7 linked regions of the Homo sapiens genome follow. The gene in region 7 interacts genetically with the main gene of each other region. Each region holds a gene or a part of one and is shown on either strand. Other genes may lie near its edges. The genes, in order: ACACA, EP300, RAB1A, CARM1, SAR1A, VPS51 and SLC33A1.

Region 1 (4,474 bases), on a different chromosome or scaffold from region 7:
GGCAGCTGTGTGGAGAATGGATGGTAGAAATATTAAAATTGCCCTTTGCCTGGTGAAGTGGTGTGTACCTGTAATCCCAGCTACTCGAGAGACTGAGGCAGGAGGATGGATTGAGCCCAAGTTTGAGACCAGTCTAGGCAACGTATCGAGACCCCCATCTCTAAAAAAATTTTAAATTGCTCTCTAAGGCATAAATTGTCCTTTTACATGGTAGTTGTTCAACAGATAGTTGATTAACATTAGTGTTTCACCTATAGCTGTACAGCTTTACAACCACTCTCAACTTCACATAGTGGAAGTGGGGTCAGTCATTTAGGACATATCTGTGTCTTTGTCATTGAAACTCAAATTTTGAGACTGGCTAAGGCAAATATCCAGATCTGGATGTCATGATTGTCAACAATGAATATCAGTAATCAGTGTTGTAATACTGTAGAAAAATTAGTCCCACATAATACTGAGATCTAGTCGTTAAAAACATAGCATTCAGGGGCCAGGCACAGTGGCTCATTCCTGTAATCCCAGCAGTTTGGGAGGCCAAGGCAGATGGATCATTTGAGGCCAGTAGTTCAAGATCAGCCTGGGCAACATGGCGAAAACCCATCTCTGCTAAAAATGCAACAATTAGCTGGGTGTGGTGGCGCATGCCTGTAATCCCAGCTTCTTGGGAGGCGCAAGAATTGCTTGAACCCTGGAGGTGGAGGTTGCAGTGAGCTGAAATCGCACCACTGCCCTCCAGCCTGTTCAACAGAGCAAGAGTCTGTCTCAAAAACAAAAAAACAAAAATCATAGCATTCAACTACCTGGAAATTACCCTCTCCCTTCAGTTGATGTTAGGCTCTACTTAGACCAATTTAGTCAGTGTGCTTAAGAAAGATGTGGAGAGGGCAGGACACGGTGCCTCACACCTGGGATCCCTGCATTTTGGGAAGCCAAGGTAGGCAGATCACTTGAGTTCAGGAGTTCAAGGAGGCATGAGAACTGGGCAACATGGTGAAACTTCGTCTCTACAAAAATTGCAAAAATTAGCCAGGTGTAGTGGCGCATGCCTGTAGTCCCAGCTACTTAGGAGGCTGAGGTGAGAGGATCACTTCAGCCCAGAGGGTTGAGGCTGCATTGACCCAGTATCACACCACTGCACTCCAGCCTAGGTGACAGAGTGAGACACTGTACCAAAAAAAAAAAAAAAAAAAAAGATGTGGCAAAATTAACATGCACAGTGAGAAGAAGGGTAACACTGATTACTGATTAAGGCAGTACTCCTCTGGGTTTTTGTCTTAAGTGGATGTGATAGTGGCATCACTTACACGACCAGCTGAAGGAAGAATAGATTTGGAGGAGAAATTGAAAGTTCTGTTTTGGATCTGTGTTTTGCATTCTGACTGGAAATGACAAATACAAGTCTACAGCTCATTGGAGGTGTCAGAACTAAAACTGTATAACTGTATTAGAATTGTTTATTTGGCTGTGTGTCTTACCTAGACAGACCTTGAGGACAGACACTGTTGTCTTTGTAACCTCAGTGCTCTGAAGTGTATCCTCAAATACTTGTGAAATGAGTAAGTAAAGGCAAAAGTAAAAATGAAGTCACTGGCTGGGTGCAGTGGCTCACGCCTGTAATCCCAGCACTTTGGGAGGCTGAGGCGGGCGGATCACGAGGTCAGGAGATCGAGACCATCCTGGCTAACATGGTGAAACCCCATCTCAACTAAAAATACAAAAAATTAGCCGGGCGTGGTGGTGGGCGCCTGTAGTCCCAGCTACTCAGGAGGCTGAGGAAGAAGAATGGCGTGAACCTGGGAGGTGGAGCTTGCAGTGAGCTGAGATCGTGCCGCTGTACTCCAGCCTGGGCAACAGAGCGAGACTCTGTCTCAAAAAAAAAAAGAATGAAGTCACTTAGGCAAAATGTAGAAGATACATACTCTATGCTTTCACTGAAAGTCTAAGCACCTGAATGTGACTTACAAGTAGGGTGACCATAATTTCTGATTTGCTGAGAATAGCCTGGTTTATATCTGTTGTCCCTACCTAAGTATTAATATTGCCTGGTTTCACTCTCAGTAAAGTCTCCATTTGTACAATAAATTTATATTGTCATTCTTTTTAGAAGGCCCTTCCAGATCTAGCATCTTCCTATATCTTTATCATCACTGCCCTATCTTAGACTCCATTTGCCAGCCAGGTGGACATACCTTCATTTCTCATATGCACTCTTAACTTCAAGGTTTTTTTTGCCAAGGTACTGCCTACCTCACTTAGACATCACTTCCTTAGGAACACTTCTCCTGACCCCCCAATGGCTGAGTTAAGTCACCCTCTTACATGTTCCCAGTACACCTTGTATTTAACCTGTCATAGCAAAGATGACTAAGTGCCTTGTTCCCTCACTAAATATCTCTGTAAAGGAACCCAAAAAAACACCTTTTGTCCTCTTTAAGCCATAAATTTATATTAATAATATCCAAATCCATGTTGAACCAGTATTTTTGAAGATTGACCTTCAGGATAAACTAATAGCACAATCTTCATGCCCTTTCATTCATAAGTAACTGAAAAGGTTGACTTTTGTACCAGGAACCCAACGAAGAAAACTTGTATCTTGTCAGGGTTGGTAACCTGGCTGCCATTGACTGAGACCAAAATATCCCAACAGTTTGTCCTCAGCTGCTAAGCTGCTGTGGTTAGAATCAAACGTAGAGTTTCTGGCCTGGTGCGGTGGCTCATGCCTGTAATCCCAACACTTTGACAGTCCTAGGTGGGAAGATTGCTTGGGCTCAGGAGTTCGAGACTAAACTGGGTGACTTAGTGAGAGTTCAACTCTACAAAAAAATCAAAAAATTAGCTGGGCATGATAGCACACGCCTGTGGTCCCAGCTACTTGGGAGGCTGAGGTAGGAGAATCACTTGAGCTCAGACAGTTGAGGCTGTAGTGACCGTGATTGTGCCACTTTACTCCAGCCTGGGCAACAGAGTGAGACCTCGTCTGGAAAAAAAAAAAAAAAGGTAAAGAGACAACCTACGGAATGGGAGAAAATATTCACGACCCCTACATCAGATAAGTGGACAAGGGCCTGAAAAGACATTGCTCAAAAGAAGACATGCAAGTAGCATGGGAGGCCGAGGCGGGTGGATCACCTGAGGTCAGGAGTTCGAGACCAGCCGGGCCAACCTGGTGAAACCCTGTCTCTACTAAAAAAACAAAAATTAGCTGGGCGTGGTGGCGGGCGCTTGTATTCCCAGCTACTCAGGAGGCTGAGGCAGGAGAATCACTTGAACCCAGGAGGCGGAGGTTGCAGTGAGCCAAGATCACACCATTGCCCTCCAGCCTGGGCAACAGCAAGACTCTGTCTCAAAAAAAAAAAAAAAAGAAAAACAAAAGAAAAAGACATGCAAATAGCTAACTGGTATGTGAAAAAAATGTTCAACATCACTAATCATCAGGGAAATGTGAATTAAAACTACCATGAGATATCACCTCACACCTGTCAGAATGATTATTATCAAAAAGCGAGATAAGCATTGGCAAGGATGTGGAGAAAAACCCTGTACACTGTCAGTGGGAATGTAAATTAGTACAGCCATTTTGGAAAATAGTATGGAGGTTCCTTAAAAATTTTTGAATGGAACTACCATATGATCCAATAATCCACTTCTGGGTATATATCCAAAGGAAATGATATCTGCATGTCAAGGTATCTGTACTCCCATATCCATTGCAGCATTATTCACCATAGCCAAGACATGGAAACAGCCTACATGTATGCCAATGGATGAATGAATAAAGAAAATGTGAGATATAGATACACACACACACACACACACAGACACACACACAATGGAATACTGTTCAGCCTTAAAAAATAAGGAAATCCTGTCATTTGCAGCAACATAGATGGACCTGGAGGACATTATGCTAAGTGAAATAAGCCAGGCACAGAAAAACAAATACTGCTTAATCTCACTTATGTGTGGCATCTAAAAAAGTCAAGCTTGTAGAAGTAGCAGAATGGTGGTTACCAGGGGATGAGAGAGAAAGAATTGGAAGATTTTGGCCAAAGGATACAAAATTTCAGTTAGACAGCAGGAATAAGTGCAGGAGATCTATTATACTATATGGTGACTATAGTTAAAAATATATACTTGAGGCCAGGCACTGTGGCTCACACCTGTAATCCCAGCACTTTGGGAGGCTGAGGCAGGTGGGTCATCTGAGGTCAGGGGTTTGAGACCAGCCTGGCCCACATGGTGAAACCCCATCTCTACTAAAAATACAAAAATTAGCCAGGCGTGGTGGTGCATGCCTGTAATCCCAACTACTCAGGAGGCTGAGGCATGAGAATCACTTGAACCCGGGAGGCAGAGGTTGCAGTGAGCCAAGATTGCATCACTGCACTCCAGCCTGGGCAACAGAGCAAGACCCTGTCTCAAAAACAAAAACAAACAAACAAACAAAAATATATATATGCTTGAAAAT
Region 2 (4,474 bases), on a different chromosome or scaffold from region 7:
CACACCACCACACCTGGCTAATTTCTGCATTTTTTGTAGAGACGAGGCTTCGCCATGTTGCCCAGGCTGGTCTCAAACTCCTAAGCTCAAGTGATCTGCCTGCCTCAGCCTCCCAGAGTGCTGGGATTACAGGTGTGAGCAGGTACAGCAGGCTGAGCACCAATGAGACTGGCGAATGCTGAGTTAGTTTCACCACCATACGCCTCCTGTTCCTTTTCCTGCTTTACCTCTTTGGTCTCTTGAGACTGACTATAAATAGAACTGAAATGCACATCCTGTGATTTTTTTCTCCTTCATTCAGTAACTCCTTCAGAGTAACAATGGTCTGGGTGAGGTATAGCACCATGCACAGTGGACATTTTGCCTCAAGGCAGTCTACTTTAAGATGCAATCCATGGTTTAACCTCAATCTAATTACAACAAACCAGACAAATCCAAATATGGAGACAGTATGAAAAACAACTGGCCTGGACTCATGAAGGTCCCCTATGCAACTTTCCTGTGTAACTTTTCCTACAGGTTTGGAAGGGAATGGAATGGATAAAAAATCTTAGTCTTTGTTGACAAAGCAATAAAATTCTTGTTCATTGAAGTTTGAAAAAACTTGTAACAACCATCAATTCTCATAACCATTAGTGTAAAAGGTATAAAAAGCTGGTATTACATATGTATTTGACATTAATTAGTATATAACTATAAACACCTATTAAAGTAATAAAATGTAAAACATCCCCTTAAGAAATTAGGAACTTGTGAGAAACTGCTGTACTGATAACAGATTATTCAACATCTGTGCACACTGGCAGCCACACTCACAGTCTCTGGCCAGCAATGTTCGCTGCTTCTGTCACCCTACAACCAGGCCAATACTTGGATTTACAACCTAAATTTAAACAGCCATGGAATGTGTCCACAATTTAAGTCAAACCTATTACAATATATTCTAAGGGCTTTTCCCAACTGCCTAGGATTCTGTGGCATTACTTACTGCTTGAAATAGCTAGTAACTATTAATTGTTAATAATCATTACCTAACGTATTAGAACTCAGGAATCCTTCCATTTCACTAGCATGGCTGAGATAATGGTTATTACCATTATTACATCGTAGCCCATTATTCTAGGCTAACAAAAAAGGGGTGGTGATGGGGGGAGCAGTGGGGGAAAAGATACTTTGAACACCTATGTATATAGGTGTTCACCATGATAACATCATTATAACAAATTCCTCTCTAAAAAAGATTTTGTTAACTATTTCTCTCCCAAAGAGACTGTTTAACCAATTTTTAGGTACGGAATTACAACCTGAAATCAAGCCTTCATTTCCCTCTCAACTTAATTACCACTTCCTATAAGAACTTGATTATATGTCTGAGAACCGAGATAGTAAAATGAGGAGTCTGACTGAACAATCGAGATTACTACCATTGGACAAACCCTGAGAGGAATTACTCTTCAATTCTCCTGGCTTTCGTTATCAATTATATGATATTAAAGAGAGAAAAAAAAAACCTTACCCAGTTATTTTCCCAAATGACTGCAAGAACAACTAAACAATGTAAATGATGAAATAACTCAAAAAGTTTTGAGAAGGGGGTTGTAAGTCCATATGTGGAAGTTTAACTTTTCTCCAATTCTATTTACTAATTCACTTTCAGAAAGGTTAAATCTTTTTATTTTTTGAAACAGAGTCTCGTTCTGTCACCCAGGCTGTAAGTGCACTGCAACCTCTGCCTCCCAGGTTCAAGTGATCCTCCCACCCCAGCATCCCAAGGATTACAGGTGTGTGCCACCACGCCAGGCTAATTTTTGTATTTTTAGTAGAGACGGGGTTTCGGTTCGCCATGTTGGCCAGGCTGGTCTCCAACTCCTGACCTCAAGTGATCCGCCTGCCTCAACCTCCAAAGTGCTGGGATTACAGGCATGAGCCACCACGCCCAGCGAACAGTCAGTGTTTTTATTCATTTCTTATTTCTTTTTCTGAGGTGGAGTTTCGCTCTTGTTGCCCAGGCTGGAGTGCAATGGAGTGACCTCGGCTCACTGCAATCTCCGCTTCTCAGGTTCAAGCAATTCTCCTGCCTCAGCCTCCTGAGTAGCTGGGATTACAGGCATGTGCCACCATGCCCAGCTAATTTTGTATTTTTAGTAGAGCAAGGTTTCACCGTGTTGGTCAGGCTGGTCTTGAACTCCTGACCTCAGGTGATCCACCCGCCTTGGCCTCCCAAAGTGCTGGGATTACAGGTGTGAGCCACCATGCCTGGCCAGAAATCTTGCCGTTTTTCCCCAACTCTGGGTGGCTGCATCTTACCTCTTTATGCTTCTCCATGGTGGCATATAGTTTCTGTGAGAGGTCGTTAGATACATTGGGCATCCCGGGTTTCTTCTTGTTGCCCCTACTCAGGCTGCTCTTATTTTTGCTGGTTTTCTTATTATTCTTCTTTTTAGCATTTTTGCTGTCTCCCTTGGTCACCTGCAGAGTAGCACAAAGGAGACAAGAAAATAAGGTTTTTGTTAAGTAATTTGGGAATAGCACAGAATATCTCCCTTCTTTGAAACTAGATATCATAATCTTATGCCTGTAACTTATTTTACTAGCTGTTCTCTTCACTTATTCTTTCTCCTTAAAGTTGTTATTTGACCTAATTTTCTCCCAGTGATCTTTAAGGCAATGGCAGCCCTTTAGCTTTTTGCCTAGAAGAGGCCACAGAATGTGCAGACCCTGTAGATTGATTGAATGTATCCCAGATTGGGGCTAGGGAACAAGGAAGGGGTGGCACTTTGGGGTAGTGAAGAGTGTATCAAAGTGGGGAGCCAGAAGACCTTGGTTTTATTTCCTTCCACTCATATTCTAAAATGTTATGAGCCTACAAATACTAAATGACAAGGCTGTAAGAGTTTGTTAACAGACTATTTAAGGGTGCCTTTTGTTAAGTTAAATTCAATGGAGGTAATTCGAGATATGCTATGGGGAAATAACTGGTGAGGTTACTAAGCCAGGCTTAGTAACTTAAATTCTGGCTCAGGCCTATTTTGTATAGCTAAGAATGGTTTTTTACATTTAAAAAGAGTGTGTTTTTAAAAGACAGAAAATATGCCAGAGATATGTGACCCACAAGGCCTATAATATTCATAACCTAGTCCTTCAGATAAGTAATCTTCTATCAGTTTTTCAGGATTTCCTTCAGTTTCTTTTATCATTTCACATTACTCAAAGTCTGAGATGCCATTTTAAAAGGGGCTCTGATGCTTTAAAAGTTTAATACCACTGAAACAGAACCCTAATAACCTCTCTAAGCCAATATTTCTTGTCCAACTTAAAGAGCTCTTTTACACCTGAAAGCTTTAAAACCCAATTGAAAGTTTAAGTGCACTTCTGGATTAAATATTAGAATCATGATAGAAGTTTCAAAGGAAACTCAATGCCCTTACATCTGTGCTTTCATTGCTGGTGTTTTCCTCTCGTTTTCTCTCTTCTTCCTCCTGTTCCAGTTCCTTAATGCTTTCTTCCAGAACATTGGGCCAGAAATCACCCTCGAAATAAGGCAATTCCTTTGCACTTGTTAATCTATCTTCAGTAGCTTGTTTAAAAATATCCTGTGAAAACATGCATGTACATATAGGAATTTCTATGTTCTTTTAAAGCATTGATTATACAGAATAATCATGGCTGACAAGAAACATGAAAGCTTAAAATGTCTTGAAAGCTGGCAGAGACTTTATACCTAAGCCGTAAGCCAGGGAGTATTTAGAAAAATAAATAGTGAAAAGGCCTGGCCTAAAGTCAATATTTCCGGTTTTCTATTTCTTCTACCCACAAAAACAGGGAGCTTATCTGCCTTTATATAACCAAGTGGCAATTATCCTGCCAGGATCAACGTCAGGGTGGTAGCACCATCATGCATGCCATGGCCCCTACCACTCCTTATCACAGAATATGTGGTATGAAGCATGCCCTCCTCACACCCATCCTTGGAATTTCAGCAGCTTTTACTGACAGCTTTGTTCAAAATGACCAAAACTACAAATACTGGAAATAGTATCTGCTGCAGAATGATTTGCTGGGCTGCTTAGGAAAACTTCTTTATTTAGTTGAACTACTAAATTGAGGAAGACAAGTCTGTATCATGAGACAACCTATATTTATGAATAACATAATACTGTTAATTAAGAATATATTTTTGGCCAGGTGCAGTGACTCACACCTGTAATCCCAGCACTTTGGGAGGCCGAGGCAGGTGGATCACCTGAGGTCAGGAGTTCGAGACCAGCCTGACCAATGTGGAGAAACCCCGTCTCTACTAAAAATAGAAAAAATTAGCCTGGCTTGGTGGTGCATGCCTGTAATCCCAGCTACTCGGGAGGCTGAGGTAGGACCATCACTTGAACCCAGGAGACTGCACCATTGCACTCCAGCCTGAAACTCCGTCCAAAAAAAAAAAAGGGAGAATATATTTTTGGCTGGGTGATGTGGCTCA
Region 3 (4,474 bases), on a different chromosome or scaffold from region 7:
GGGATTACAGGCATGAGCCACTGTGCCCAGCCTTCCGATAATTTTTGTATTTTTCGTAGAGATGGGATTTCGCCATGTTGGCCAGGCTGGTCTCAAACTCCTTACCTCAAGTGATCCACCCGTCTTGGCCTCCCAAAGTGCTGGGATTACAGGCGTGAGCCACCACGCCTGGGTTTTTGAACATTTTTAAGAAGCTTACCATTTTTTCGAAATAGCTAGTTCCATTTTACACATAACTTCAGCTAGGCATGTTGCCTCATGCCTGTAATCCCAGCACTTTGGGAGGCCGAGGTCAGAGAGTCACTTGAGGCCAGGAGTCAACATAGCTCCTGTGACCAGCCTGGTCAACATAGAGACTCTATCTCTACCAAAAAAAAAAAAAAAAAAGTAACCAGGTGTGGTGGTCCATGCCTGTAGTCCTAGCTCCCCAGGAGACTGAGGTGGGAGGAATGTTTGAGCCCAGGACTTCAAGGCTGCAGTGAGGCAAGATTGCACCATTGCACCCCAGCTTTGGGGACAGAGTGAGAGACCCTGTCTCAAAAACAAAATAAGGCTGGGCGCAGTGGCTGTCCGGGCGTCGTGGTTCACGCTTATAGTCCTAGCACTTTGGGAGGCCAAGGTGGGCAGATTGCCTGAGCTCAGGAGGTCTAAGACCAGCCTGAGCAACATGGCGAAACCTCATCTTTGCAAAACATACAGAAAAAAACAAAAAAAACCACAAAACCTCTAGTTGCCAGTTATTTTTTTTATTTATTCCTAGTGATTCTTCTTTTTTTCTTTTTTCTGAGACAAAAATTTCACTTTGTCTCCCTCGCTAGAGTGCAGCGGTCAGCTCACTACATGATTCTTTTAGAGACATGTTAATTCTTTATATTGAGCTGAAGCCTGTTTCTTTTACTTCTGTCTCTTCTTATTCCTCCGCCTTGTAGAGCTGCCTGAATCAGATTAATTCCTCTTTTATTGGCAAGCCTGCCCTTCAGATTGATCTTATCACAACCTTTCTTCTACCTCTGAAGTCCTCATTCTTTCCTGTAATGATATTTTCAGAACCTTGTGCAATTTGGGTTATTCTTACATTTTATAAATGCCTTTTATTAAATTTGATTTCTTAAATCAAGTATGAGATATAACACATGAGGTAAATCCTGTCTTGATTTGGAGCCTGAATGAATTTCTCTCTTGAACTTCAAGGGCTCATGGCCCTTTCTTATTATTAATCAAAGACAACCATTTGTTGTTTCAGTAGCTATATTATTTCTAGTTTGGGTCTTAAGGTTTTTGATTTGCTTGTTTTTTCTTTTTTCTTTTTTTTTTTTTTTGAGACGGAGTTTCGCTCTTGTTGCCCAGACTGGAGTGCAATGGCGTGATCTCGGCTCACTGCAACCTCCGCCTCCCAGGTTCAAGCGATTCTTCTGCCTCAGCCTCCCTAGTAGCAGGGATTACAGGCATGTGCCACCACGCCGGGCTAATTTTGTATTTTTAGTAGAGATGGGGTTTCTCCATGTTGGTCACGCTGGTCTCGAACTCCCGACCTCAGGTGATCCGCCTGCCTTGGCCTCCCAAAGTGCTGGGATTACAGTCGTGAGCCACGGCGCCTGGCCGATTTGCTTGTTTTTAATTAAAATAGGGGCCTTGGCCAGGTGCAGTTGTTCACCCCTGTAATCCCAGTACTTTGGGAGGCTGAGGCAGGCAGATCTCTTGAGTTCAGGAGTTCAAGACCAGTATGGGCAACATGGTGAAACCCTGTCTCTACCAAAAACACAAAATTCAGCCAGGCATGGTGGTGTGTCCCTGTAGTTCAAGGTACTCAGGAGGCTGAGGTGGGAGGATTGCTTGAGCCCGGAGATGGAGGTTGCGGTGAGCCAAGATTGTGCCATTTGCACTCTAGCCTGGGCAACAGAGCGAGACCTTGTTTCAAAAAAAAAAAAGAAGAGGGTCTCACTTTACACTTCTGTGACTGGTGTTTTAAAAATCTAAACACAGGCCGGGCACGGTGGCTCACGCCTGTAATCCCAGCACTTTGGGAGGCAGAGGCACGCAGATCACAAGGTCAGGAGTTCGTGACCAGCCTGGCCAGCATGGTGAAGCCCATCTCTACTAAAAATACAAAAAAATTAGCTGGGCATGGTGGCAGGTGCCTGTAATCCCAGCTACTTGGGAGGCTGAGACAGGGGAATCACTTGAACCCAGGAGGCGGAGATTGCAGTGAGCCAAGATTGCGCCATTGCACTCCAGCCTGGTGACAGAGCGAGACTCCGTCTGAAAAAAAAAAAAAAAAATCTAAACACAAGATTTTACTTTTAATCCTATCATTTCCTCTTGCTTGGCTTCAGTAATCCTTCAAGTTTTCTAGGTCTTTTCAAAATCTTGATTCTGTTGATTTATATTTTAATTATCTTTTCCTTTCAGCTTTTCCTGTTCAGGTGTGACATCTGGGTCTTTATCTGAGTTTTATTAGATTATAAAACATTCAGCAAGATAGGGCAGGTACTGAGTCCAGTTGTACACCATGGAAGGCCTCTTTCTGTGATTGTTCATTCATGAGGCTTTATGAAAATGTCTACATTACACCAGGCACTTGGAGGTTACAGAGATGAATAAAACATAGTCCATTAGGAGGCAGACAATGGGAGAGACAAACATGGGAAAAAGTTACTCTGATTATGAGGAGTAATGAGAATTACATATGAAGGAAAGTATTGTTAGTACTGTTAGGATTTAGTGTCAGGAAAGTTTTCAGAGTAGCAAGGAAACATCAGAAATTTTACTCTTTCTGCCAGGCATGGTGCATGTATTATTCTGTTCTCACACTGCCACAAGGAACTGACCAAAACTGGGTGATTTATTAAAAAAAAGGTTTAATTGACTCATAGTTCTGCATGGCTGAGGAGGCCTCAGGAAACTTACTGTGGCAGAAAGGGAAGCAGGCACGTCTTACATGGCAGGAGGCGAGAGAGTGTGAAGGAAGTGAAGGGGGAAGAGCCCCTTATGAGACCATCAGATCTTGTGAGAATTCATTCACTATCACTTGAATGGGGGAAACCGTCGTCATAATCCAATCACTTCTCCATAATCCAATCACTTCCCTCAGTGATTACAACTTGAGATGAGATTTGGGTGGGGACACAGAGCCAAACCATATCAGTGCCTGTAGTCCCAGTTACTTGGAGGCTGAGGCAGGAGGAACACTTGAGCCCAGGAGTTCAAGATCTGCCTGGGCAACATAGCAATACCTCCATTTTGGATAAAAAGGAAATTTTACTTTTTGGGTGCCATTGCTTACTTTAATCAGCTGTAACTTCTTGTTGACTTTTAGTCAAAAAACAATTTTTCCTTCTATCTTTGTGAAAGAGGTTGGTGAGCAAGGAAGAAAAGGAAACTTGCTTTATTGAGCAGCTTCTATAGTCAGGCACATTTTACAAACATTAGTTCATTTAAACCCCTTTAGCTGTTGTACAAGGTGAATGCTATCTAGCATTTACAGATGAAGAAACTGTTAGGTGACTCTCCCTAATATTAAATAACCAGGAACCTGGATTTGATGTTTTGAAGTCAGGGTAGCTTGATCCTCGAGTTCATGCTTCCTCCAAGGATACACTGAAAGACTTTGAGCCTCTTTTTTTTTTTTTCTCTTTTTTTGAGACAGGATCTGGCTCTCTTGCCCAGAGTGCAGTGGTGTGATCTCAGCTCACTGCAACCTCTGCCTCCTGGGCTCAAGCGATTCTGCCTCAGCCTCTCGAGTAGCTGGGACCACAGGCGCACGCCAGCATACTTGGCTAATTTTTGGATTTTTAGTAGAGACAGGGTTTCACCATGTTGGTCAGGCTGGTCTCGAACTCCTGAGCTCGTAATCCGCCCGTCTCGGCCCCACAAAGTGCTGGGATTACAGGCGTGAGCCACCGTACCCAGTCCCAACAGTTTTTTAAAACCCAGAACTATAATGCAATAATGTTAGCATTTGTTTTGGGAGTTTGAGCCTAAATGGTTGAAGTGCAGTAAATTGTTCTTAAAATACGTTTTATGAAAGTATTTGGAGTCATCTTCCTTACATTTTTTTCTCTAGGATGAAGACAACACCTAGCCAGGCATGGTGGCTCATGCCAGTAATGCCAGCACTTTGGGAGAATGAGTTAGGATAATTGCTTGAGTCCAGGAATTTGAGACCAGCCTGGGCAATGTAGCGAGACTCTGTCTCTACAAAAAAGAAAAAATTAGCCGGGTGTGGTGGCATGTGCCTGTAGTCCCAGCTACTCAGGAGGCTCAGGTGGAAGGATTGCTTGAGGTGGGAGGTTGAGGCTGCAGCGAGCCATGATCATGCCACTGTACTCAGCCTGGATGACAGAATGAGACGCTGCTTGAGAGGGGAAAAAAAAGACACCTGCTTGGGATGATTAAAGTTCTGTCTTGACTGGTAGTTATTTGAATTAGGTCCCTCCAGTGCTTTTAATCATGGTAGAATGTGCTAGCAAGTGAG
Region 4 (4,474 bases), on a different chromosome or scaffold from region 7:
ATGTAGATTTTAGCACAACTTTTAAAAACTGACAGAACTGAAATAAAAAATATTAAAATACAAATAGTCTTAAGAGTGGGAACGGCCGGGTGCAGTGGCTCATGCCTGTAATCCCAGCACGTTGGGAGGCTGAGGCGGGTGGATCACTTGAGGCCAGGAGTTTGAGACCAGCCTGGGCAATATGAAAAACTCCATGTCTACTATATTAAAAACACAAAAATTAGCCAGGCACGGTGGCACACACGTGTAGTCCCAGCTACGCGGGAGGCTGAGGCATAAGAATCGCCTTGAACCCGGGAGGTGGAGGTTGCAGTGAGCTAAGATAGCACCACTGAACTCCAGCCTGGGCAACAGAGTGACACTCTTTCTCAAAAAAAAAAAAAAAAAAAAAAAAGGGGCCGGGCACGGTGGCTCACATCTGTAATCCCAGCACTTTGGGAGGCTGAGGCAGGTGGCTCACTTGAGGCCAGGAGTTCAAGACCAGCCTGGGCAACACAGTGAAAACCCATCTCTACAAAAAATTAGCCAGGCATGGCAGCTTCACACAGCTGGCCCCGAGGGCTCAGGCTGCCCAAGGTACATCTGGGTCACTGCACAGCTACCTTGAGACAAGGGGGAGGCCGGCAGTGGCTCATGGGCACGCAGCCTCTCCACCTCCAGCTGTCCTCGCACCAGCACCTGTGTCAACCACTGGACTCACTTCAGGTCTCTGGTAACCAAGCCTGCGGTGGGACCTTCAGACCATCTCCAGCCCTGGGCATTCCTGGACACCTCTCTGCTACCCTGGCTGCATCCACCTGGGGTTCTCCCACCCCTAGTCAGGAATCTTGTGTCCACCTGTGCCCCCAAGGTGGGTTGGTTAAGCCCTTCTGGTGGCTTCTCTGCGCCCTGAGCAAACTCTTCCTGCCTCTAGGACCTCGCCTCACTCCATCCACAGCTGGCCCAGTCACAGCTGGCCCAGGGCTGGCCACTGCCAGAAAGACTGGTCCCAGGTGGTCAGGATGGGCCTCTTGGAGGTGGGGACATAGAAGCCAAGCCCCAAAAGACCCGGAGGAGCCGGTGAGGGAGGGTCTGGGATCCAGGGTCTGCCCAGGCCAGAGTGTATTCTGGGCATACCTGCATGTGGGAATGTGGTTTTGAGGGCAGTGGAGCCTTCTTAAGGATGCACGGGCCACCCCTCAGCCAGGCTCTACGCCCCTGCCCACCAGGGCTCTGGGCGCTTTGGGCTGGTGTCACCGGAATGGAAGGAGGGCCACGTACCGTTGGGTGTGGCGAACTGGATGAGGACGCTGTTGCAGCCCAGGGTGATGATGAAGGACTGCTTGCCCACACGGCTGCACTCTGTCTCTCGGGACACTGAGCACTTAAAGACACACACATCTTCATCTACGAGAGAAGACAGGCTGGCGTGAGCGGTGCAGCCCTGTCAGCTGCCTTCTTTTGAGCCTGGGTCCCTGTCGCCCTCCTGCTGCCTCCCCTTGGTGCCCCCAGATTCTTCCAGAGTGCCACAAAACCACCCTGGCAGCATTGCCGGGTGCCCTGACTGCCCAGCCCACATGGAAGACAAGGGAGCGACTGATCAGACAGCAGGAACACAGCCTGTGTCCTCAGGATGATCAGGGCTGAGACGGGCATGGTGAAGGCTGAGGTGGGCAGACAGGGCCACAAGGCATGGTGCTGGCCCACAGGAACTCAGAGCTGGAGCTGCCTCTGCCCTGCTCGGCTGAGCCCTTCTGTTCTTGGATGGGCGCAGAGCAGTGACTGCATGTGGCCAGTGGAGTCAGACCGCTGGGTTCACACCCCATCCATGCCATTTGTTCACTGTGACACAGGCATGTCCCTCAGCCTCTCTGGAACTGGGGTTCTCACCATCAGATGGGGCTAATGGCGGGGCAGTGGTCTAGTGAATTAGGACACTGTCTCCCTGTACCCATCATGATAGCTGTTACCAGTCATTCATTCCACAAACCTGCAGCCACTCCACTCCAGCCAAATGGTGAAACTTAGCGATGCCAGGAACGGGCCAGCCCAATCAGGCACTGTGCCCCTGCCTGCCATACTGCAGTGGGACAGGTGCATCATCTGTAGTATTCTTGGCAAAAATGTTTGCCCTAGTCTCATCTTCAAGGGACAACAGAAAAGGACAAGTTGTGGGGCAGGCTACAGGACAACCAGCCTGGTCTCCTTGAACAGGCCAATGTCAGGAAAGACCAAAACGGTGGGAGCTATTCCAGAGTGCAGGAGACAAGAAAGAGGGGAGTGCCCAATGCAATGCAAAGTGGGACCCTGGGCTGGAGCCAAACGAAAAATGTTTTTAAAAGTTATACAGGACAACTGGGGAGGCTGGGCCCACACCTCTAATCCCAGCACTTTGGGAGGCCAAGGCAGGAGGATCACTTGAACCCAGGAGCTGGAGATCAGCCTGGGCAGCATAGCAAGACCCCATCTCTACAAAAAAATTTAAAAATTAGGCAGGCATGGTGGCATGCGCCTGTTGTCTTAGGGACTCAGGAGGCTGAGGCTACAGTGAGTCATGACTGTGCCACTGCATTCCAGCCTGGGTGACAGAGCAAGACCTTGTCTCAAAAAAATAAATAAAGGACAACTGGGGAGCTGGACAGAGTGGCTCACACCTGTGGTCCTAGCTACTTGGGAGGCTGAGGTGGGAGGATCGCTTGAGCCCAGGAGGTTGAGGCTGTAGTGAGGTATGATGGTGCCACTGCACTCTAGTCTAGGCAACAGACGTGAGATCCTATTAAAAAAAAAAAAAAAGACAACTAGGGAAATGTGAGTGTGGACTACATATTCCATAATTTTAAGTTATTTGGATGTGACAATGGTATTGTGGTTTTGTAGAGAAATGCATATTTTCTTAGAAAACATATGCGGAAGTATTTATGGCAAATTCCCATGATGTCAGTAGCTTGCTTTTGAATAGCCCATCATAACAACAACAACATGAGTGCAAATATGGCAAAGTGTTCTCAATCACCCTGAATAGCCAAAACAGTCTTGAAAAAGAATGAAGTTGGAGGATTCCCATGTCTCAATTTCAAATTTTACTACGAAGGTACAGTAATGAAAACAGTGTAGTGGTACTGGCAAAAGAAAGGAGACACAGATCAATGGAACAGAATCAGAGTCCAGAAATAAACCCTTATACTTATCCTCAATTGATTTTTGATAAGGATGCCAAGAACATTCAATGGGGAAAGAATAGTGTCTTCAACAAACACTGTTGAGAAAACTGGATAACCACAGAGAAAAGAATGAAGTTAAACCCCTACCTCACACCATATACAAACAAAACAGAACTCAAATGGAGCAATGACCTAAATATAAGAGCTAAAACAAGAAAACTCTTAGGAGAACTATTTGCAAATCATCTATTGTTAAGTATTTAGTGTCCAGAATATATAAAAAACTATTTTAGGGTCAGGCATGGTGGCTGACACCTGTAATCCCAGTACTTTGGGAGTCAGGCAGATTACTAGAACCCAGGAGTTTGAGACCAGCCTGGGCAACATGGTGAAATCCCGTCTCTACTAAAAATATAAAAATATTAGTCGGTGTAGTGGCATGCGCCTGTAGTCCCAATTACTTGGGAGGCTGAGGTGGGAGAATCACCTGAGCCCAGGAAGTTGACACTGCAGTGAGCAGAGATGGCAACGCTGCACTCTAGCCTGGGTGACAAGAATAAGAGCATGTCTCAAAAAAAAAAAAAAAAAGTCTGGGCACAGTGGCTCACGCCTGTAATCCCAGCACTTTGGGAGGGCAAGATGGGTGGATCACGAGGTCAGGAGATCAAGACCATGCTGGCTAACACAGTGAAACCCTGTGTCTACTAAAAATACAACAAAACAAAACAAAACAAAATTAGCTGGGCATAGTGGCAAGTGCCTATAGTCCCAGCTACTCAGGAGGCTGAGGCAGGAGAATGGTGTGAACCCGGGAGGTGGAGCTTGCAGTGAGCCAAGATCACACCACTGTACTCCAGCCTGGGCAACAGAGTAAGACTCCGTCTCAAAAAAAAAAAAAAAAAAAAAGAAACAACAATTATTTTGTATCTATTTTTATTATATTTATTTTTTGAGATGGAGTCTCACTCCATCACCCAGCCTGGAATGCAGTGGCACAATTTTGGCTTGCTGTGACCTCTGCCTCCCAGATTCTAGGGATTCTCCTGCCTCAGCCTCCCGAGTAGCTGGGGGACTACAGGTGTGCACCACCACGTCCAGCTTATTTTTGTAGTTTTCGTAGAGATGGAGTTTCACCATGTTGGTCAGGCTGGTCTTGAGCTCCTGAGCTCAAGCGCTCTGTCTGCCTCGGCGTCCCAAAGTGCTGGGATTACAGAGGTGAGCCACTGTGCCCGGCCTATATATTTTCTTGAGACAGATTCTTGATCTGTTGCCCAGGCTGGAGTGCAGCAGCACTATCTTGGCTCACTGCAACCTCTGCCTCCTGAGTAGCTGCG
Region 5 (4,406 bases), on a different chromosome or scaffold from region 7:
AAGCCAATAGTATAGAAACCATCAAGCCATGAGAAAATGCAATGTTGACAAAGGAGAAAACTTGAAGTGAGTCCTTAATAGTATCAAAGGATGTATGCAACCAAAACTGAAGACTGAGAACAGACCATGAAGGTCTGGCAAGTCATTCAGTGGGAGGGTGGGTAGGCACAAGCTGAGAATGCAGATTCAAAAATGTAAAGAACTCTAATATCGCTTTTAGGCTTTCACTATGCCAACACTACTTATAAAGAATTACTGTTCATGGGCCAGGCGCGGTGGCTCATGCCTGTAATCCCAGCACTTTGGGAGGCCAAGGCGGGTGGATCATGAGGTCAGGAGATCAAGACCAACCTGACTAACATGGTGAAACTCCGTCGCTACTAAAAATACAAAAAACTAGCCGGGCGTGGTGGCACGTGCCTGTAGTCCCAGCTACTCGGGAGGCTGAAGCAGAAGAATCCCTCGAACCCAGGAGGTGGAGGTTGCAGTAAGCCAAGATTGCGCCACTGCACTCCAACCTGGGCAACAGAGCAAGACTCCGTCAAAAAAAAAAAAAAAAAAAAAAAAAAAACAGAATTACTGTTCATGACACGTGAAACAGAATACTATTAATTATGCTGGGACAACAGGCATAAATGAGGAGTATCCTGAGCAAACTTGGCCATATAATCACTGTATGATAGAAACAACAGTTAATTTATTTAAGTTTGAGCTGAGTTTCCTCAGGACATTGAAAAGCAATGTCTTAGATTTAAAACATTTTCCTCCTGCAACTAGGTCTTTTTGCCAAATGTTAACTGGAATGACTAATTATTGGCACTACTGAGCTATATTCCTTAAAAAAAAATAGAGGCCAAAAAAGAACAAAATATACATTAAAATACACATTAAAGGACAAAACATACATTAAGCTCAACTTTGGATTCCACGAGGCGAGAATGATCTGCACAGTCCACCAGAAAGACAATCCCATTAATTGCTGGGAGATAATTTTTCCAAACGCGACGTGCTAAAAAACAAAGTTTGTAGTTGCATGAGTAAAAAATATACATTGTGAAAATGAATAACCTAATGGTCTATAAAATGGACAAATCTTGGTCGGGTTTCAGTAAGATTAGACTCTATGGATTTCTCCAAGTTCTGGCCAGTATTAATTCAGAACAGAGGATGCAAACTGATGGTCCATGAGCTGAACCTGATTTTTGTAAATTTGAAAATCAGAGTTTCCGCTTTTTTTGAAAAACTGCAACATCTGGCAATCCCATGCCTACTTATCCACGTGACAATTATCAGCAGGAACTAAGCAGTGGCTGCCCCTTCAGATGATGTCTGAACACTTTTGCTTGACAAAATTTCCCTGCTGTCTTACAGTCAGCCAATTTTACTCACTTAAATGACTTGCCTTGCCCCTGGGGCCAAGTCTAGTTTGCAACCTCTGAGTTAAAACATCAGGATACAAATTACTTGTCCATGTAACTTTAGTCCCAGTTAGTTTCTAGCCAACTTGTGTGTAGGCGTCTTGACACATTCCTCTGCTCAGCCCTTAGGGAGACTAGGCCTGACAAGTGGTTCAAGGCCCCAGGCCAGTTATCTCAACCTACCATATTTAACCCAGCATGCCTTATAAATATTACTTGGTTTTTTGCTTGTGACATGAAACGATAAAGGCTGGGAAGCAGTGATTTAATTGTACTATCATTTCTAAGCCATTAATTTCTAGCCCTTGCAATAGAATGAATAACGAACCATCTCTACATCAGTTAATAATGGTTACCTTTAAAGAGTGGAGCTAGGAAAAAGAGGTTGAAGGAACTTTCCATTTTACTTTCCGTAGTTCTATACTGATTTTGTTACATCGAACTTGCTCTCCTTTTATAAGTTAAAATTTTTAAGTTATACAAAAAAAAAAAAAGGAAACCTCCAGATGTACAGTACTTTAGTAACTTTTATAAAATGGTGGCTAGGTTATTATGTAAAAGTGTTTTTGTTAAGTAGATTTTCCTCAGTCAAATAAACAAAACTAATTACATCAATACATTTCCCTTCTTACTTTTAACAAAACCTGAAACCTAAATTTATCACACCAAACAATCTACAATTCCCAGTTCAGGTATATAAAACCATCTGGCGTCTGGTCCTTCTACATTCTCCAGATGGTCTAGGTTCAGTCTTATCTTGCTCTGAATTTAAATTTGTAAGCAGTTACAAATCCTTTTGTGGAAGCAGCAGAAAGGACACCATATACCCATTCTTACCCAAATGAAAAAAATACAAGCTCCTTACAGAAAAAAAGGAAACAAAATCATTTCTAATCCCTCTATCAAAACACACCCCTTGTCAATATTTTGATATTTTCTTCCAGCCTCTTTTCTTTACTGGTATTTTATGTGATTATGATCATAATATACATGATTTTTCAGGGCATAAATATTAAATAAATTAATTAAAATGTAATTATATGTTAATGAAATCACTGACTATAAAATTATTAGGCTTAACAACTAGAAATGACCAATGTTATATTTTACTATACATTTTTTAAAAACTGTATTAGGCTGGGCACAGTGGCTCACGCCCATAATCCCAGCACTTTGGGAGGCTGAGGCAGGTGGATCACCTGAGCTCAGGAGTTGAAGACCAGCCTGGGCAACATGGCGGAAACCCAGTCTCTACAAAAAACAGGTGGGAGGATTGCTTGAGCCCAGGAAGTAGAGGTTGCAGTATGCCAAAATTGTGCCACTGCACTCCAGCCTGGGCAACAGAGCAAGACCCCATCTCAAAAAAAAGAAAAAAACGGTATTAGCTCAACCTAATGTTTCAAAACAAGACTTCTCCACTCAGTGTAATAACAAGTAAGTAAATCTGACAGAATCTCAATAGTTCCTTTTCCCTACTTTCCCAGAATATTTATTCTCACATCTTAAATGTTTTACTCCTATACCTACGGTCTTGTCAAATGTGAACTGAGTGCCCATCAGACAAAGATGACACTCTGTATGTCTCTAAACACCTGATAGGAATCTGGAAACCAAAGACATAGCCTGAGTAGGCAAAAAGCACTTCTGAGGAAAGCAAAAAGGTAGAAGGAAATGTTCCACCAACTGTCTGAAATGGATAGAATATACAAAATATCAACTTGTATCAGAGTAATCACACATAGTCACTGTATTACTTTTGCAACTTTTGACAAGTCTGAAATTACTTATAAATATTTAATTTCCTACATACTTTCACTCCATTGAATAAAGGATGCAAAAATGACTTCATAACTAGATATATGATACCGTATACCTGGTCAAGATGAAAAAAATGGTATAAAAGAGATTATCAGGACAACTGACCAAAAAAAAAAGGAAATACAGAGTGGATAAAAATAAAACTTCCTGGATTTGATAACTATTATGATTATATACAAGGAAATATCTTTGTTCTTAGAAAATGGCACTAAAGTATTAAAGAGTAAAGGGGCATGATATGCTCACCAACACTTCATTAAAAACAAGCATTAATATGTATTATATAAAGAAGAGGCACTAAAGTATTAAAGAGTAAAGGGGCATGATATGCTCACAAACAGTTCATAAAAAATAAGCATTAATATGTATTATGTAGGGAGGAGGAGACTAACAAATTTGAGCAAAAGGTATAGAAGAAAATATACTGGCTTAGGGCAAGCCTAGTTAAAATGATGAAATAATTACTCTTGTTGAAGCAATACATATATCTTTTAACATATTTTCCAGTTACAAGGTAAATTACATTAATAAGTAAAAATGTAGTAAAGATTAAAATGGCAAGATGCTGTCCTGCTTTGTAAAAATTTTCAGTCAAGATTTGAGTTGAGTTTGGCTATATCAGGCAAATACTTAAAAGTTCATGAATAGTTATACATTATGGCTAACTTTATCCCAGCTCAATAGGGTAATATTGAAGGGGACTTCTGTGTATTATTTAATGCAACTTTTGACAAGTTTGAAATTACTTAAAAAAATAAATGAATAAAACAACTTCACTAAAGTAATAAGATCCTAATTCTAAAATGTAAGTAATTTAAAAGGTAAAAATGACACACTGCTTTTAAAAGGAGCTGGGAGGCACAAAAAAAATAAGTCAATAAACATGCTTTCCACTGAGTCATCACTTACCTTGCTCGTGCCCACCAAGATCAAAAGTTGTAAAGGTCATTCCAGCAATTGTTAGCTCTTCTGATGCTGAAAAATTGTTTAAAAAGAAGAAAAAAACTTGTCAACTCAACAACCCCCAACTACTAGTACTATAAGCCAATATCAATGCTTTCATCTTGTAAAGAAAAAGATACAAGAAGTTGAGTGTGGTGGTACCCGCCTGTAGTTCCAGCTACTCAGGAGGCTGAGGGCAGGAGGATAATCTGAGCCCAGGATTTTTGA
Region 6 (4,474 bases), on a different chromosome or scaffold from region 7:
AAAAGAAAATTAACAGACATACAGAAAAGTGCACATAAGTGGACAGCTCCATGGATTTCACAAAGGGAGCACAGTCACATAATCAGCATCCAGGTCGGGAAACAGCATAACCAGCAAAGCCCCCTGAGCCTCCTACCAGTTACCACCCAGTCCCCTCCCAAGGTAGCCAACATCCTCGCATCCAGATGGCTTTCACTCTCCCTGGTTACAAACTGCTTTTCTTAACAAGCTTTTTTTTTTTTTTTTTTTTGAGACAGAGTCTTGCTCTGTCATCCAGGCTAGAGTGCAGTGGCCCAATCGGCTCACTGCAACCTCCGCCTCCGGGGTTCAAGTGATTCTCCTGTCTTAGGCTTCCAAGTACCTGGGATTACAGGCACCTGCCACCACACTTGGCTAATTATTGTATTTTCAGTAGAGACGGGATTTCACCATGTTGGTCAGGCAGGTGACCTCAGGTGATCCACCTGCCTTGGCCTCCCAAAGTGCTGGGGTTACAGGCGTGAGCCACTGTGCCCAGCCTGCTTTTCTTAACAAGCTTGAAATGCAAAGATAAACAGTGTAGTCTTTGTGACTGAATGGTGTGGATGCTTTCACTGTTGTTTTTGGATATGGTACAACTTTTATCTCCAGTGTAATGGCTCCATGGCTGGGAAGGCAGCGACAATGACAGCACACAGCACTGTTGGGTTTTCTTTTACTCTATTTTCCTAACAACTTAGTGTTTGGATTTTACCCTTTAGAAGTTGGATTCAAGCTTCCTTCTTGAGGTAGCCCCTAAGTGTCATGGGCTCAAACACCCACTACCAAAAGAGTCTGCTCTTTTCATGGTAGCTTTTGGCAGACCTGGAAGGAGATTGTGTCACATGGCCTGTAAACAAAACCAGTAATTCACTGGGTGAAGACCAAATGCCTCATCAACTGCCAAGCCTCTGTCTGTCTCCCTTAGATCAGTAGCCCATGATCCCTTTACGAACCTCAGCCTCGGCTCTGCTTTTATTGTTTTTCACTGCATAGCGCTGCCTTTGCTATGTCCTTTAGTTCACCATCTATGAATTGGCAAGAAAAATTTTCTTGCCAGGCACAGTGGCTCACTCCTGTGCTCCCAGCACTTTGGGAGGCTGAAGTGGGAGCATTGCTTGAGCCCAGAAGTTTGAGACCAGCCTGGGCAACATAGAGAGACCCCATCTCTACACAAAATTTAAACAAAAATTAAAAAATTAGCCGGGTGTGATGGCGCTTGTGTGTAGTCCCAGCTACTTCAGAAGCTAAGGTAGGAGGATCACTTGAGCCCCAGAGTTCAAGGCTGCAGTAAGCTGTGTTTGCACCACTGCATGCCATCTTGGCTCACTGTAACCTCCGCCTCCCCAGTTAAGGTGATTCTCCTGCCTTAGCCTCCTGAGTAGCTGGGATTATAAGTGTGCATCACCATGCCTGTAGACAGAGCAAGACCCTATCTCAAGCAAAGAAACTCAAAATAATTATGATTTCCCCAACAAAATGCAGGCAATGGTCCCTATGGTCCCAAAAGTAATATAGATGTTTCACATCATGTGATTTTATTCCTTAGTAACCTTCCTTTCTATGAAATCATCTCTAAGAGGGCTAAATGATCCTTTCTTGTGGACTGTGTTGTTAAAATGAAAAGTCCATTTTGCTGATACGTAATCTACCTTTCCATGTAATTTTTTAAAAAATCCCTTAATAGCTCTACAGATGTGAGCCCTGTAGATTCTTTGTCTCAGACAGTTCTTTCTCTTATATTTTCTCTAATATTTTTTTCCTGCATTTTTTGTTTCTGTTTGTTTCTTGTCAAATTGACATCAATGCTTTTCTCCTTACTCACCCTTCCAGCTGTCTCCCCAAGTGGGGTAGATTCCCAGTGTTGCTTGGAGAACATTCCTACAGTCCCAGAGCCACACACAGACCAGGTGTGGGTGTGTGAAGGCTCACAAGTGATTGCAGTTAGATATTTCCAGATTCTTCTTTGTAAATGCTGATCAGTTTGCATAACCACCAGCAAAGAAGAGAATACCTCTTTCAATCTTTGACAATCTGAGAAGTGAAAAGTGGTATCTCTTATTGTTTATAGTAACGTTTACAGGGTGTTTTTTTTTGTTTTTTTTTTTTAGGGCTTTCTATTTATTCAATTATTATTATTTGAGACAGAGTGTTGCTCTATTACTCAGGTTAGAGTGCAGTGGCACAATCTCAGCTCACTACAACTTGTGCCTCCAGGGTTCAAGCGATTCTCCTGCCTCAGCCTTCCCAGTAGCTAGGATTACAGGCACCTGCCACCACGCCCAACTACTTTTTGTATTTTTACTAGAGACAGGGTTTTACCATGTTGGCCAGGCTGGTCTCAAACTCCTGACGTCAAGTGATCTGCCTGCCTCGGCCTCCCAAAGTGCTGGGATTACAGGCATGAGCTACCGTGGCTGGCCTATTTATTTGATTATATCATCTGCAAATAGTGATACTTCTCCCTCCTTTCCAATTTGTGTATCTCCATAATACATCTCGTGACTCTAGCTGAGTTGGCTAATGCCCCAGAACAATGTAGATAACATTGGCAATCAAGGTTGTCCTTGCCATGTTTTGACTTTAATTGGAGTGCTTCTAGCACTGCCTCGGTAAACATGATACTGAGTTTTGGAGGTCAGGGAAATATTTAGCTGCTCATATGTTATTGAGAGTTTTTTAAAAATCAAGAATAGATGTTGAAATATCTATTAACATGGCAAATTATTATGAGATCCTCTAATTTTGAGTCATCCTGGCATTCATGAAACAAAAACCCTTTTGTGTTTATCAATTATTATTTTAATATGCTGCTGGATTTTGTTTGCTTATTTGTGCATCTCCATTTGTTTATTTAATTCATCCTTGCATCTCCATTCATAAGAGATATGAATGTGTATATGTGAGGTATTTCTGTTATGTTTTCATAACAGTGTTATGTTTGTTCCATCAAGTTTGTGTGAGAGCTGTTCTCGTTTCTCTGCTGGGGCAGTGTTTACACAGAGAATTGGAAGGCGCTGTCCTTCAAGCCGCCGCAACACCCCTGGACATCTGGGCCAGATGCCTTTGTGTGGAGGGGAAAGGGGAGTAGGACCTTTCTTTCACAACATTCTCTAGTTTTTCTGTTTCTGTTTTCTTGTTTTTTGCAATCCATTTTGGTAAATCCTATTTTTGTAGCAAATTATCCATTTCATCCATAGAATTCACCAAGCCCTTACCAATTTAGTGTTTTCTTGGTATTTTACCCATGCTGCAATTTCAGTTTTGATTTCCTTTTCTGACCTCATAATTGGTTAACAATGAGGTTTTTTCGACTGGGCACGGTGGCTCCCGCCTGTAATCCCAGCACTTTGGGAGGCCGAGGCGGGTGGATCACTTGAGGTCAGAGACCAGTCTGGCCAACATGGTGAAACCCTCTCTACTAAAAGTACAAAAATTAGCCAGGCATGGTGGCACGTGCCTGTAATCCCAGCTACTCGGGGCTGAGGCAGGAGAATCGCTTGAACCCAGGAGGTGGAGGTTGCAGTGAGCTGAGATCGCGCCACTGCACTGCAGCCTGGGCGACGGAGGGAGACCCTGTCTCAAAAAAAAAAAAAGAATGAGGTTTTTTTCTTTGTGATCTACCATATGGAAAGGTTTGTATATATTTTATGGCATTGTTTGGGAAAAATGCAAACTGTGTGCTTCCTATGCTCTCACATCACCACAATCATGACCACAGAAGAGTTCTGTGACCAAATGTGTTGGGTTTCTTCCCCACACACCAAGCAGCAGACACCCGCTGGGTGTCCTCTGATTTAATTCCAACACTATTTACCCAGAGATAGCATCAGATTCCATGAGTTGAGGGCTGAGTCCCCAAGCCTGCCTCCCTTCAGGCACTAGTTCAGTCCCAAATCTGCCTCCCCACTTTCAGGCACTAGCTGCAGGTCAGGGCCTCAGGCCTCCAGAATTTCTGACCAACTGGCTCCAGGTAGGGGTTTCCATAACTCCCTCTTTGGGCTCAGTTTGCTGGAGTGGCTCACAGAGCTCAGGATAACACATTTACCAGTTTATTACAAAGGATGTTACAAAGGGTACAGATGAGCAGGTGCATAGGGCGAGGTGTAGGAGAAGGAGCATGGAGTTTCCATGCCCTCCCCGGGCGTGCCACCCTCCAGGAGCCTCCAGAGCTGAGATCGCGCCACTGCACTCCAGCCTGGGTGACAGAGTGAGACTCTTTCTCAAACAAAACAAAACCAAAATATCTCCTGTTACAGATACACATTTCTGTCTTATCCTCTTCGCCTTTCTTTATGAACATTGTTGGTATGTTCAATGGAATTAGGGAAATTAGTTGGGAAATGTTGGCAGTTGTTGGACAAGAGATGATAGTGGCTTACAAAGAAAATGTTGCAGGTAGACCTTCCATGACTTGGTAATGGATTGATTACTAGGTATATTAATCCAGGTTCAT
Region 7 (4,474 bases):
AGAAATCATTAAAAATGTATATATATATTGGCAGTTATGCTTCATTTTAACCAGATTGATTTGGGTCAATTAAAGGCTTAAGTTCTTTTAAACCTAAAACTTTCAAATTGGTAAATTTGGATTTTTGACCCCGTTTACTATAACACATTGGACTTTTTGAAGTGGAAATTTAGTTGTATTTATAGCCATCTACCATCCCTACCAGTACTGAATTTTCAGTTGTTTTCACTTAATATTATTAGAAAACCATAAGGCAAAATGTACCTCGTATAACTTGACTGTTGTACCAGGTATAATAATATGATGCTCACTTGTAACTGTCATGGGTCAGTAATAAAATTGAGGTTCTTGAAGAACTTACATATGCATGGAGGAAAATATTTCATAAGTCACGAATTAAAATACTTTTTTGTTTTTATATTGCAGATTGGTTTTTCAGCAGCAGATGCTGTAACAGGACTGAAATTGGTAGAAGAGGGAGTACCCAAAGAACATTTAGCCTTATTGGCAGTTCCAATGGTTCCTTTGCAGATAATACTGCCTCTGATTATCAGCAAATACACTGCAGGTCCCCAGCCATTAAACACATTTTACAAAGCCATGCCCTACAGGTAAAAATGAAATAAAACCTTACTAAATAAGAAAGGGTAAAATGAGGAACATTCATCAATACCACTAATATCTGAGCGTAGAATTATATATATGGAAAAAGATTTGAAAAGCATCTTTTTTCAATATTATTTATATGCACTTTTATCTTTTTAACCTCCTAACAGGTTTAGATACAGCTTCTTTCATATGGTAGGCACACGGATTTCTGTTTTTGTTGTTGTTGTTATTTAAGCTAAAATGGAAGTCAACTCAATGTTTCTTTCTCTATAGATTATTGCTTGGGTTAGAATATGCCCTACTGGTTTGGTGGACTCCTAAAGTAGAACATCAAGGGGGATTCCCTATATATTACTATATCGTAGTCCTGCTGAGTTATGCTTTACATCAGGTAAGCTTGCAGTGGTTTTCTCAGGAAATAAACTGTTCTGTGTAAAATAAGGAAGACAGCTTTCTACAGTTGTCTTAAAATAATGATAATAAATTTTAAGCATGAATCTGACACTGAAGAAATTATTGATGGTGCGCTTTAAACTTTATGACTTTTCACTTAATGAGTTCTGCTGTTCATAGAAAGAGACTTTTTTATTTATTTATTTATTTTTTTCCCAAGATGAAGTCTTGCTCTGTCACCCAGGCTGGGGTGCAGTGGTGCAGTCTCGGCTCACTGCAACCTCCACCTCCTAGGTTCAAGCATTTCTCCTGCCTCAGCCTCCTGAGTAGCTAGGATTACAGGCACGTGCCACCACGCCTGGCTAATTTTTGTATTTTTAGTAGAGATAGGGTTCCACTATATTGGCCAGGCTGGTCTTGACTCCTGACTTTGTGATCCACCTGTCTCAGCCTCCCAAAATGCTGGGAATGCAGGTGCAAGCCACTGCGCCCGGCTGAAAGAGACTTTCTTATTCATTCATTCATTAAAAAAAAAATTATTCAACAAGTATTTGTTACATTTTAGAATTGATTCCAAAGCCAGCAAATTCTACTCTTGCTAAATATTTCTCAGTTTATCCCTAGGTTTCAGTTCATTCTTTCTTGAATTCCTAATATCTTTTCTTTCTGAAAGTATTGAGAAATAGTATTGGTCTTAGTTTCTGGCTTAGCTTCTGCTTTTTTTTTTTTTTTTTTTTTTTTTGAGACAGAGTCTGGCTTGCTTGCCCACTGCCCACGCCCGGCTAATTATCTGTATTTTTAGTAGAGACAGAGTTTCACCATATTGGCCAGGCTGGTCTTGAATTCCTGACCTCAAGTGATCCGCCCACCTCGGCCTCCCAAAGTGCTGGGATTACAGGCATGAGCCACCATACCCGGCCCTGGCTTAGCTTCTATATTGAAAGTTTTGACTTATTCTTTATGATTTTGAAAGCTGTGTCAAGCTGCTTTTTCTTTCTTTGTTAAATATGTTTGTAATCCTTAAAAGAAGGAATCCCCACTTTGCTCTAGCCTAAGCTGCTGTTGCAGAATGAGATTTTTTTTTTTTGAGACAGAGTTTTGTTCTTGTTGCCCAGGCTGGAGTGCAATGGCACGATCTCAGGTCACCGCAACCTCCGCCTCCAGGGTTCAAGCAATTCTCCTGCCTCAGCCTCCAAGTAGCTGGGATTACAGGCATGTACCACCATGCCCGGCTCATTTTGTATTTTTTTAGTAGAGACGGGGTTTCTCCATGTTGGTTAGGCTGGTCTAGAACTCCCAACCTCAGGTGATCCACCCGCCTCAGCCTCCCAGAGTGCTGGGATTACAGGCATGAGCCACCGCGCCTGGCCCAGAATGAGATTTTTTTGTTCTGGATGCAAGTGATTCAAGTAAATGGCAAAGGCCCAGAAGTAACCTTTGGGACTTAACTGCAGTTATTGCTAATGCATATTTCTGAGTCACTTTGGATTTTTCTAGCTTATATCCTTTGAAAGTTATATTTGCTAATGTATGAATTAATTTTTAACTGAAACGTAAAAATATGACTACCAGGTAATCTCAGTAGTTTTGTGCATACAGTAAATCATTTAGGAGAAATCTGTAGTGGATCCTGTCAGACTAAATTCTATGCTTATAAAATTATTGAGGCCAAACTGTCAAATATAATTTTTTTTTCTGTTTTGCACATGCTTAGTTAAGGCTAGATATGTAATAGAAGGTTAAAGAAATACTTTAACTAGTCAATGCTTCAGTATTTCTGTCGGTATGTTATAGCCCAAAAAAAGTATTTATTTAGCTTTGGATTTCATTTGAGAATTTCCTGAAGTGTAATCACTGAAACTCAGATAACCAGATGCTTTATGGGGGAAAAAAGGTACAAGACCAAATAAATTCGAGAAATGATGTATGACATAAGCCTTCTGTAAGTAGTGCCTTAATGATTCCTTCAACAAATTTTTTTTTTTTTTTTTTTTTTTTTTTTTTTTTTGAGACAGAGTCTCACTCTGTTGCCCAGGCTGGAGTGCAGTGGCACAATCTCGGCTCACTGTGATACCTCCACCTCCCGGGTTCAAGTGATTCTCCTGCTTCTGCCTCCCAAGTAGCTGGGATTACAGATGAGCACCACCTCACCCAGCTGATTTTTGTATTTTTAGTAGAGACGGGTTTTACCACATTGGCCAGGCTGGTCTTGAACTCCTGACCTCAGGTGATCCGCCCACCTCGGCCTTCCAAAGTGCTGGGATTATAGGTGTGAGCCACCGCACCCAGCTTCTTCAACAAATATTAAGTGAACACCTATTCCCTGCCAGAAACCATTCTGAGTACTGAAATATAACTTAATAAATCATGCCCAAATCCCTGCCCTCAAGGAGTGTATGTTGTAAATATTTCAAAAGGCATACAATGAAAGGAACCTTTTCAATTTTGTGTAAGTTAGTGTCTTTCAGTCTTATTTGACTTTGGAACTCCTTTTTCTGTGAACACCCCCAAAAACACTATTCAAAGGAATACCATTATTGAAACACAGTTTGTTTCCATCTTTCTAAATTAAAGGTTAATTCTTGCCTTTTAAGTACTTTTTGCCTCTTAAGGATGTTTTTCTCCAGTTTGTCACATAAATTTTGAAATACTTTTCTTGTGTATATGTAGGAGAAAAATATATATATTCCTATTTCTTTAAATATTTGAGTATTTATATATGTAATAAATGCATACATATAAATATGTATATATACACATGCAATATATGATACATATTTAGGTACAGTACAAATATGAGGTTTTGCATTTTGCTGTATGCATTATGTATCCTTTAGTGCCACCTCATCTAACATTTTCTCCGTGGAGTCTTTCTTGACTACTTGTGGTAGAATTAATCTCTCATTTATCTTTATGCCCCAGTAACACAATGTGTGCACTTCTATTTACAGTACTTCCTGTATTTATAATTATTTATTCCCCATTTTCCAGCCTAGAATAAATTCTTCAATGTCACAGAAGGACCAAGGTCACATCTTTGTATTGCTGGGATCTTTTTTTTTATTTATTTATTTTTATTTATTTATTTTTTTTGAGACTGAGTCTCCCTCTGTCGCCCAGGCTGGAGTGCAGTGGTGCGATCTCAGCTCACTGCAAGCTCCGCCTCCCGGGTTCACGCCATTCTCCTGCCTCAGCCTCCCAAGTAGCTGGGACTACAGGCGCCTGCCACCACATCCGGCTATTTTTTTTTTTTTTTTGTATTTTTCAGTAGAGACAGGGTTTCACCGTGTTAGCCAGGATGGTCTCGATCTCCTGACCTTGTGATCCGCCCGCCTTGGCCTCCCAAAGTGCTGGAATTACAGGCATGAGCCACCGCGCCCGGCCTGTATTGCTGTGATCTTAAAGCCTGGCCTATAGTAGGTGCTTGATAAGTATTTGTTGAATTGAGTTCAATAAATACCATGAAAATTAA

Evidence for each region.
Region 1: changes in SLC33A1 (region 7) and ACACA together harm fitness more than expected from each alone (negative genetic interaction), as found in Homo sapiens cells (one large-scale study listed by BioGRID).
Region 2: changes in SLC33A1 (region 7) and EP300 together harm fitness more than expected from each alone (negative genetic interaction), as found in Homo sapiens cells (one large-scale study listed by BioGRID).
Region 3: changes in SLC33A1 (region 7) and RAB1A together harm fitness more than expected from each alone (negative genetic interaction), as found in Homo sapiens cells (one large-scale study listed by BioGRID).
Region 4: changes in SLC33A1 (region 7) and CARM1 together harm fitness more than expected from each alone (negative genetic interaction), as found in Homo sapiens cells (one large-scale study listed by BioGRID).
Region 5: changes in SLC33A1 (region 7) and SAR1A together harm fitness less than expected from each alone (positive genetic interaction), as found in Homo sapiens cells (one large-scale study listed by BioGRID).
Region 6: changes in SLC33A1 (region 7) and VPS51 together harm fitness more than expected from each alone (negative genetic interaction), as found in Homo sapiens cells (one large-scale study listed by BioGRID).

What each region holds. Positions count from the first base shown.
Region 1 is NC_000017.11:37,400,090-37,404,563, reverse strand, and holds part of ACACA (acetyl-CoA carboxylase 1), read left to right. Parts: intron 1-4,474. UniProt on the Homo sapiens protein: Cytosolic enzyme that catalyzes the carboxylation of acetyl-CoA to malonyl-CoA, the first and rate-limiting step of de novo fatty acid biosynthesis.
Region 2 is NC_000022.11:41,171,618-41,176,091, reverse strand, and holds part of EP300 (histone acetyltransferase p300), read right to left. Parts: intron 3,594-4,474; coding exon 3,429-3,593; intron 2,470-3,428; coding exon 2,308-2,469; intron 1-2,307. UniProt on the Homo sapiens protein: Functions as a histone acetyltransferase and regulates transcription via chromatin remodeling. Acetylates all four core histones in nucleosomes. Histone acetylation gives an epigenetic tag for transcriptional activation.
Region 3 is NC_000002.12:65,091,430-65,095,903, reverse strand, and holds part of RAB1A (ras-related protein Rab-1A), read left to right. Parts: intron 1-4,474. UniProt on the Homo sapiens protein: The small GTPases Rab are key regulators of intracellular membrane trafficking, from the formation of transport vesicles to their fusion with membranes.
Region 4 is NC_000019.10:10,901,863-10,906,336, reverse strand, and holds part of CARM1 (histone-arginine methyltransferase CARM1), read right to left. Parts: intron 1,387-4,474; coding exon 1,261-1,386; intron 1-1,260. UniProt on the Homo sapiens protein: Methylates (mono- and asymmetric dimethylation) the guanidino nitrogens of arginyl residues in several proteins involved in DNA packaging, transcription regulation, pre-mRNA splicing, and mRNA stability.
Region 5 is NC_000010.11:70,156,859-70,161,264, forward strand, and holds part of SAR1A (small COPII coat GTPase SAR1A), read right to left. Parts: intron 4,212-4,406; coding exon 4,146-4,211; intron 1,010-4,145; coding exon 906-1,009; intron 1-905. UniProt on the Homo sapiens protein: Small GTPase that cycles between an active GTP-bound and an inactive GDP-bound state and mainly functions in vesicle-mediated endoplasmic reticulum (ER) to Golgi transport.
Region 6 is NC_000011.10:65,101,788-65,106,261, forward strand, and holds part of VPS51 (vacuolar protein sorting-associated protein 51 homolog), read left to right. Parts: intron 1-4,474. UniProt on the Homo sapiens protein: Acts as a component of the GARP complex that is involved in retrograde transport from early and late endosomes to the trans-Golgi network (TGN).
Region 7 is NC_000003.12:155,829,994-155,834,467, reverse strand, and holds part of SLC33A1 (acetyl-coenzyme A transporter 1), read left to right. Parts: intron 1-426; coding exon 427-611; intron 612-882; coding exon 883-1,000; intron 1,001-4,474. UniProt on the Homo sapiens protein: Acetyl-CoA transporter that mediates active acetyl-CoA import through the endoplasmic reticulum (ER) membrane into the ER lumen where specific ER-based acetyl-CoA:lysine acetyltransferases are responsible for the acetylation of ER-based protein substrates, such as BACE1.